2 separate regions of the Homo sapiens genome follow, and region 2 is linked to region 1. The links come from fine-mapping of genetic effects on gene expression. A gene starts in region 1. The other region holds a variant in brackets. All regions are shown on one strand. Distances are from middle to middle.

Region 1 (4,400 bases):
ATATCACAAATGACTCATCTAAATACTATCTTACTTCAGGCTGGATAACTGTGTGATTATGAATATCTTGGTAATAAATACTGAATGAAAATTACCAACGAGTTGAAACACAATAATATGTTTAACCCTAAAGCCATGTTGAACAGAAGGCCTTTCCTTTAAGGACGCTGATGAAGGAGAACAGTTCAGGTTCACATAGATTTGAAAACATTTCTGGTTATCTGAGCTTGTTGATGGTCTGGATTCTGAGTAAAGGGGAACTTACTTGTATTAAGATGAAGTCATTCAACCAAGACGAGAGTTGGAAGGCACAAATATTTATCAATTTTCCATGAAGACAATGGAAAGATGATCAGGAAATATGTTTTACATGAAAATGTTAAAGATTACAATTACCACATTCTGAAAGGCAACATATAGTACAAATGAACATCAGTAGCTACAGAAAACTAACAATGGTTAACTTATCCAGAAGATGCAGTGTTTTTCTGATTCTCAAGTTATCAGGTTATATTGTTCATAAGGATCTCACAAAGACAGATCCAATTCAAGAGCTTTTTGCATCTCCAAAGATATCCTGCTTGTTCTAAAAACCACAGGAAGCTATTTAAATTAGAATAAAACTTACAATACTTAATTCTGCCCCTAATTATAAATGGCAAAGAGGTAGGAAGGTCAGCTTGAACACCAAAGAAAGAAGACATGTGGGCCTTTTTCCAAAAGCTTCTGGATAGCTAGAATGATCATCCTTTTAAAAGAGAACATCTCTCACTAAAAGACAAAGTTGTTATATTTCTAAACAGCTAAAGAATAGAGATACAGAGATTCCGTGGCCAGAAAAAAGACTGAGTCCGTTTTAATTTTCCTCAATGACTAATTTGTGTCACAAGTACACAGTCCCTAATACAAGTGGGATTTATAAGGTTAAAAAAAAAAAAGAAAAGAAGAGCCTCTCACATCTGCATATTCCCACTGGAACAAGGAATACTGCTGCCTCTCTAGTGTTAAACCTAGCCACTCCACTGCCAAACTGTGAATTCCCCAAGTCCTTCATTTTTATATTATCCAGTGCCCACACGAGAGCCTGGCATATGCTAGGCACTGAATACAGAGAAATGAATGAAAGACTCAAGTGGTAACAGTGAAAACAAAATTGCATTTCCTCCTCCTGTTTAAGGGATTAAACCAAGAGAAAGAGAAGAGAAAAAGACTCAGGAATTGGGAGTATTTAATGAATTTTGCCTAAAACTTCAGTAATTCTCTAGATAAAATGAAATCATGCTAAACCACTTCATTGTTATACATATAAGAAGAAACAAATACGGAAAATTTCACAATTACGAAACCAAGTTGTTTTGAGGTTTATTTGATACTAGCTTCCTACAGCCTCAACTAGCATGTATGATGCTTATAAATTCTGTACAACCAATGAAAAAAAAACTAATTTAAATCATAGTGTGAAAATCAGGAACAAAATACTAATAGTTTGATAAACAACATAACTATTCCTTTCTCTCTCCCTGTGTTGGAGACTTCCTTAAATCAAACAAAACCACAGTTTAGGTGTGCCAGACTATAAAAATCATTGCTGCTTAATGTTAGTTGTGCTTTATATAACAAGCCTTATCTGCTTCTCACAAAAGTTACCACCCAGAGGAAGGTTTATTTGCAAGAATACTATACAATTTTGCAGCAGAATATTAGAGAATGTTCTGGGTGTTACTTCAATAAGAATTTCCAGCAAATCATTTTCTCCTAATACTGTTCTAGTTCAAATCCACCTACTGCTCAGTGGGGAATGGGAGGCTAAATTCTTAAGGCCATTCAGTCTACTTGGGGCGTGAGGGGGTGTGTAGAAAGCCAACAATCAAACGAACACCCTCTCAAGGCCTGGGTGCTTCTCTGAGAGCCAATGATTGCAAAATGAACAATCTTATTAAGATCCCTAATTAGCCCGAATTCAAAAGCAAGGTAGGCATGCTCCTTAGCTGAGCTAAGGATAAAACTTTCCAGGAAAAATTGAGGAGAAGAAGGTGGCAGGGATGATGGGGGCTGGGAGACTGCAAGGCCACAGGCTTGGTGGCTGGAAGATGACAACTATCCTAAAACATTCAAATGCCAAGGGGTGGAAGAGAAACGATGCCAAGTACATGAATAACCGGCAGCTGACCCAGCTGAGTACCAAACTCAACACCATCTCCTGAAGATTTCATGACTTCGCCCCCGCCCCCCATTCGCCCCCCACCCCCCTCGATTGTTAACATGAAAGAAAAACATAAAGAAAGAATACCTGTCACAGCAGGGCGCACCTTTCAACTAAGGAACTCCGGGTGGCTGTGTAGAACCATCCTCACCCTAGAAAGGGGGAAACTGAAAGAAAAAGCAGAACACGCCATTAACAAGGCCAGAACCCCGACTGCCATTCCTGGACGGGAGCCACCAACACCCGCAAAATCGATCGGTACGTACGCCCCGCGGCGCGGTCGGTAGGAATCACAGCCCCGGGCTCCTGAGGCCAACCGTGGCCGTCGGGGCCCGCCAGCGGCCTGTGCCTCAGTCTCCCAATCTGTAAATGGGGTGGGGGGCGGGAGGGGGACAGCGTCCCGCGCGGCTCCCGCCCCAAGTCCTCTCTCCTCTGGGGGTCCCGATGGTGGCGACCCCGCACGCTCCCCGGACTCGCAGCCCTCCCGGGAAGCCTCGGGGGATGGGGAAGCCCCGGTGGGGGGGGGAAACCCGGGCTGACGTCAGCGGGCTCGGCAACCCGCGGGCCCGGCCGGCTCGGGCCCGGGCAACTAACGGGCCGGCGCCGAGGGCCCGATGGTCGCCGCGGCGGCTCCGGACGCCCTGAGGCCAGGCGGCTGCGCCGAGGGGATCCGGCCGCCCGCCGGCCGCCAGCCGCCCGCTCATTCACTAACCTCGGGCGGCGGGGCGTCGCCCCTCGCCCCGGCTCCCCAGCCCGCGTCCCGGGCCGGCCCCGGCTCCCCACACCCACCGCCCTAGTATTTACCTCCGACGCGCGGCCCCCGCGCAGCCAAACCTGCTACCTGGGCCCGCCCCCACCTGCCCCGCCTCCGAACCGCACAGGGAAGAGGGAGGGAGCGGGGGCGGAGGGGGCAGCCGCCGCGCTAGCCAATCGTAGGCCGAGCTGCGCTCCTGAGCGGGCCGTGATTGGGCCTCCCTGTGACAGACCTTCCTCCAATGGCTGCCAGCCCGGCGCCGGCCGAAGGGACTTTCCGCTCTGTCAAGCTCGGTGGAACCAAAGGGAAAGCGAAGGGGCGGGGCAGAGAAGAGCGGCGGATGGAGGCGGGAAGCTCAAGCTGATTGGGCGAAAGGCTGTGGGTGCCGCGTCACCATTGGCTGATGCTGGAGCCGGGGCGGGGCGCTGCGCTGCCACCAGCTCCGCCTCCCGTGCTCCCGCCTCAGCTGTCAAAACTGTAGACGCTTAGGTTTGGGCTGGGTTAAGAGTCCAGATGAAGGTTGAAATAGGATTCCAGGATGCCGTGAGAGAGCAAAGCTTTAGAATCAGACCTCAGTTTGAATCTTTGGCGCTTTCATTCAGTGGCTGCGTGACCTGAGGAAGTCACAACCACGCTGAGCCTCAATGTCCTCATCTGTAAAATGGAGATCATAGTATCGGTTGTCTTACAGGATTGTGGCAAAATACCGAGCTAAAGTTCCTGGCACGCAGTACCAGCTCAGGAAAGGTTCATCTCTTCCTCCTCCGCAGATTCAGCCTGGGACGCTTGCTGTTTCCGAACCTCTGTTGCCACCTATCCCAGTTTGGAGGGAATTTTCCCAAGGATGGTGAAGAAGGGATTTCCACACGCCGCCTCACTCAGCCCCGCACCCCTGGCCACCAGCCAGGACTTAGGGTGTAGTTAAGGATCTTTCAATTAGAAGGGAGGCTTCTGATTCCCAAAAGCACTCAAAATATTTAAGGAAGTGCTTTTTATAATCAGTCCTAGAGCCTTGCTGCACTGGATACTCCTGTTAATTAATTTCTTCTCCTTTGACATTTTAAGTGCTAATTATAGGAGAAGGTGATTAACACTGAGAAAGGAGGAGGGGTGTGTGTGTGTGTGTGTGTGTGTGTGTGTGTGTTTTTAATCATGACACAAATTTCCCCCAGTGGAAAGTGACATGTTTCTGGAGATCCAGGGAATTTAAACCAATGAATACATAAAAACAGTCACATGAGTGATGACTAACAGTAGCAGTAGACAGGCCACCACTCTTCCTTGCCATAGTCATCCAAAATGAAATGAGCATCTTTTGAAAACCTAAGCCTCATTCTACTCCTGTCCCTCTTTTGTCACTCCTATCTTCCTGTTTTCCAGGCTTCATGACCACACTGCTGTAGGAAGCCATAAGTTGGAAATCAACGGGCCTGGCTTGAAGTG
Region 2 (4,400 bases), 35 kb before region 1:
GTCAAAGTCTGTAGATATCTCTGTAAGAGATTTTGCAGGGTCTTCTGCAACTAAAAAATTATTCCTAATTACAGAAATGTATTCAAGGATATTGACTCTGTCTTACATTTCTAAAAATTTATATACAGATCTAGTCCAACTGCCCACCTGACCTCCCTGCTATTAATAGTACTCTCATAGGCATCACAAAGTTATTATCTCCAACAGTGTTCTCGCTCCTCTCTCCACCTCCATATTTATGCACCTCAGTCAATGGCACCCAACTGTTCAAACCAAAAAAATCTATTATCAGCGGGTATCGTATACGTGATAGTCTTTGTCCAAAATACAATTAATTGAGAAGGCAGTACAAAAAGATACCGAAAACCTTAAGAAACGCTTCTATATATCTAATGGATCAAAAAAGAAATAATACGTTTTAACAATAAAGAAAAAAGAGAGAAAAAGTAACAAAGAAAGAAAGAATCCTTGTGAAACATGGCTAAATTAATACTTATAAGGGAATTTTATAGACTTCATTGCTTATTTCAGAAAAAAACAAAAGCTAAATATGAACTCAGCATACAACTTGGGAAGTTAAAAGAACAGAATAACCCTCAAAAAAGTAGAGAAGAATAAACTAAAGAACAGAAACAACAGAAGAGAGAAAACAAACATACAATAAGAAGTTCAAAGCCAGAATAAACACAAACACAGAATGTAATTTAAGAGAAACCAAACACATGATAAAGAGAGCCACAGCCAAAAGCTATTTTCTTAAAATGACTAATACAGCTGACAGGCAGGTATTGCAGATCAATGACAAAAGAATGAACTTCTTACTAAATGCTGTTGAGATAATTGGTTATCCATATTTTTAAAAAAAAATTAAACAGGAATCCTACTCATACTTTACATGAAAATCAGCTCCAGGTGCCTTAAAAACAAATGTGGCAGGCAAAACTCTAAAGGCTGGGAGACCACAGAGTCAGGCCTGTTTGCCTTTCCATTCTCATCTCATGAATGTCATGCCTCTGTCTGTGTTCTAGTCCCTGGCAAACACTAGCTTCCATTCTTCCAGGAGGACTTTCCCTATGCTATTTCTTCTCCCGAGGAAGTTCTAGCCCCTTTCACTTTGTCATCTGTCACTCCTCTGGTAAACCTAAGCATGTGTCACTGCCCCAAAGAAACACCCCTAAGACCCTGAGAAAAATCATCTTTGGTGTATTCTCACAGCATCATGCACCTTCACTGCACACACCACCAAGGCAACTCTACTGTGTCTGTGGTTGTTTGACTAATTTCTATCTCAACAACTTAACAACTGCAAACTCACAAAGGGCATGAACCATGTCTATTTTTTCTCACCATTTTCATCTTGATGCCTAAAAGAATGCCTGGCAATCATAAGCACTCAATAAATATTTGTTGAACAAATGAACAAAGAAGAGAATAAACTAGGTGAAAATGATGTCCCAGGACCAAGGGAAGATAAAATTTTTTAAAAGGGAGTGCTTTAAAGAGGTCAGGAAGGAACCAGACAGAAATCTTCCACCCTAAATAGATCAGCAGTTAAAGGAAAAGAACAAATTACTAATACATTTCTTAAACATTTTAATAATCTTAACAGCAGTACGGTTCAAACTGTGTACAATATTTTAGTTCAGCAATATTACAAAGAGCGGTCTACTTATTCTGTTTCCAAAAACTACAAATATTGATATAAAAAACCATTTTTCTCTGATGAGTTAGAAAGAAAGGATCATTATAAAGAACACTAAAATTACTGATTACCTTCATCAATGTACCATGTATTTTTTGATTTGGATTGTGGTTGTGAGTCAACAGAAGACCCATTTAAGGTATAAAATAATTCAGATCTGTTTCTATTTCCAGGGTCTGAGGTAGATCCTATAGGAACAAGAAAAGTTTCATTTAAAAATAAAGTCAATATAGCATCAAAGTTTTTTTTTAGTAAGAGAAATTATTATGAATATGATGTTAATAACTGTTTACATAACCAATAAATGTATATAAACACAATATGTTTTTTAACTGTCTTCAGCTTTTAAAAATTTGGTAACCATTTTGACAATATTAAAAATATTTTTCAGCCCAAAAGTCAAGATAGGAGGGAAACAGGAGTAAGTTAAAAGAAAAGCCCACTCATTTTT[A/T]AAAAAAATGAACTGCTTTAAGAAATTGTTCCATGTACCACAGCTTATTTCTAAATGTCAAAATCACCATTCTCCAGCTTCATTTCATAGACCCATTGGTTCACAAATTTAACCTATTATTTTAAAAGAAGGTAATCCTCAAATTCTATATATAAATCAATACACAAATTACATTTAAAAATAGTTAAGTTTTAAACATTTTGGAATTTTTGGTCATCAAATTCCTTGTGTCTTTGAAAAAATCAAGCACTATTATTTCTTACAGATTGGATTTATTATACGTGAGAGGGCGAGTGTAGCTATGCCACAGCCATTTCATGACATTACCCTGCCTCAGTATTAATTCAAGGACATACCACACACAGTGGAGGGCAGTGGGCTCTCCAGAACCCACAAAAAAGCTGATTTCCCTTTTCAAATTAAAGCAGGTAGCTGTACATTTTATAACTTTAAGATCTACTACAATACAATTAACATGCCATAGCTTAAGAAAATCTTTAGTCTGTTTCTATTTAAGTGAGAGTAGCAAGTTTGAGCTATCCTATATAGATCTATAGGTTAACATAAAAAAGACTGTTACCTATATATCCTGCAATTAATCCTAAGTCTCCCAGGCCCCAATGTCACATAAAATAATTCTTAAAGTACAATTTCCTTTTAAATGAGCCAAAATTGTAATAATTGAGGAAAAAATATTCTTTTCCTAACTCGCATCTGAGTTAACAAAAATTCTCAGAGCCTTTTTAATGAGCTCTTTGGCTTGTATAACTACTATTCTATAAATCTATGAAGTATGTGGAAGCTAACAAAAAAAAGAGCTGTAAGCTCCACACATATTGTGAGGAAGCTTCTGGGAAAGAGAAGAAATTTTTGCTTAGCAGTTTGGGATTTAATTTGTACCAAATCTAGTTAGCAAAATCCATTTAATTAACCTCTAGTATACTTTATCCTATATAACATTATCCATATAGGATTATTTTACACAGTTGCAATCCTAAACTATACATACAAATATTCCAAGTAAGGAGTTCCAAAAACCATTTGATTATAGACCAGCAAAACACACAAGACCCTATGGGGAACTCTTCCTGAGGTAAAAAAGGCTGGGAACACTTGGCTTAAGCAACAGTATTTATATACAAACTTTAGTTTCACTACTAAAAATGTTTGAAAGAAAAAAAGTCTACATACATGTTCAGAAGTAATAGCTTATAATCTTTTTTAATGCTATGGCAAGTTAGGCATTATGCAAATTACTAAAGGTTATATGCTATTAATCCATACCTGTAGCCTTTGGTTTATTATGACTGGATGAACCTTTGTCCCCAACACCTCTTGACATAAAGGCAAGTTTGGGAGGCCTCCTTTCCTGCGTCACACTCTCTGAAACAGTAAGCATGTTTTTTAAAGATAAAGGCAAATTCTTATAGAAGAGAAACAAGGAATGACAGTAACAAAATAAAAAAACCCTCTTTCCACAAAAAGGCAGAATTTTTAGTTTTACAAATGCCTTTTAAAGGCCATCAAAAGTATTGAAAAAGATAATACTATGGGGGAAAAAACCAATGCTGTATTTCAAAATGTAATTTCTATAAGAAAATACCCTCTCAAAATACAATTCAGCTAAATGCTTTAACCTCTTGAAAATTTAATCACTTGTAGTCAATTTTATTTGATCTCTTAAAACACTACAAAGAAAATCTTACTCGGTTTTTTACAGCATTTCCCAAATCAGCAGGCTTAGAACACCCCTGTGTATTATGAAGTGTTTCGAACTCAAATATTTCTTGAAGATGCTGAGATAAACAAAGATAAACAATTTCTTTACTGCACGGAACCAGAGCCTTTAATATGCTAATGTGCATTGTGAACTGCTCAGGGAGAAACAAAATAAACTTATTGATAAAAATTTTTGTGCCACTTTGCTTAGCATCTCAGATTAATATTATTTCATGAACACAGTTTGAAAAAAGCCTGGTTAGGAATATGTATCATGGTTAGGAAAGAAAGTTCTGGTTAAGAACATATATCTGTTTTTAAAAACATATATGTTAAGAATAACACAGATGTGTATACAAACACTTATACATATAAAAGAGGAAAACATAGAGAATTATGCATAGATTAAAAATACAGAAAGCCAGAGACACACAACAATAATATATTTGAAGAAAACACTCACAATTATTTCTGAAATATAGGTGTAATAAGTGTGGCAAACTTGTTTTGAATACAAAGACCACTCTA

What was found. PIP is the estimated chance that this variant, and not a neighbour inherited with it, causes the effect.
Region 2: its variant is the best candidate, but not a certain one, in a credible set for the expression of CYLD-AS1 in whole blood (INTERVAL, PIP 0.87).

The regions. Positions count from the first base shown.
Region 1 is chr16:50,740,732-50,745,131 of GRCh38, reverse strand. It overlaps CYLD-AS1 (CYLD antisense RNA 1), which reads left to right and starts at 2,385. Exons shown (of 7, transcript NR_184279.1): 1 at 2,385-2,461; 2 at 3,728-3,804; 3 at 4,338-4,400. It overlaps CYLD (CYLD lysine 63 deubiquitinase), which reads right to left and starts at 3,046. Exons shown (of 19, transcript NM_001378743.1): 1 at 3,008-3,046; 2 at 2,291-2,370. MIR3181 (microRNA 3181) reads right to left here and starts at 2,827; the gene lies at 2,755-2,827. RefSeq lists an enhancer at 2,292-2,391 and a silencer at 2,632-3,231.
Region 2 is chr16:50,775,315-50,779,714 of GRCh38, reverse strand. CYLD (CYLD lysine 63 deubiquitinase) reads right to left here. Exons shown (of 19, transcript NM_001378743.1): 7 at 3,438-3,536; 8 at 1,774-1,890; 9 at 1-50. Among named protein-coding and RNA genes, the nearest start is that of CYLD-AS2, 26 kb to the left of the region's middle. RefSeq lists a silencer at 1,110-1,269. The variant A/T (reference allele first, on the strand shown) is at 2,154.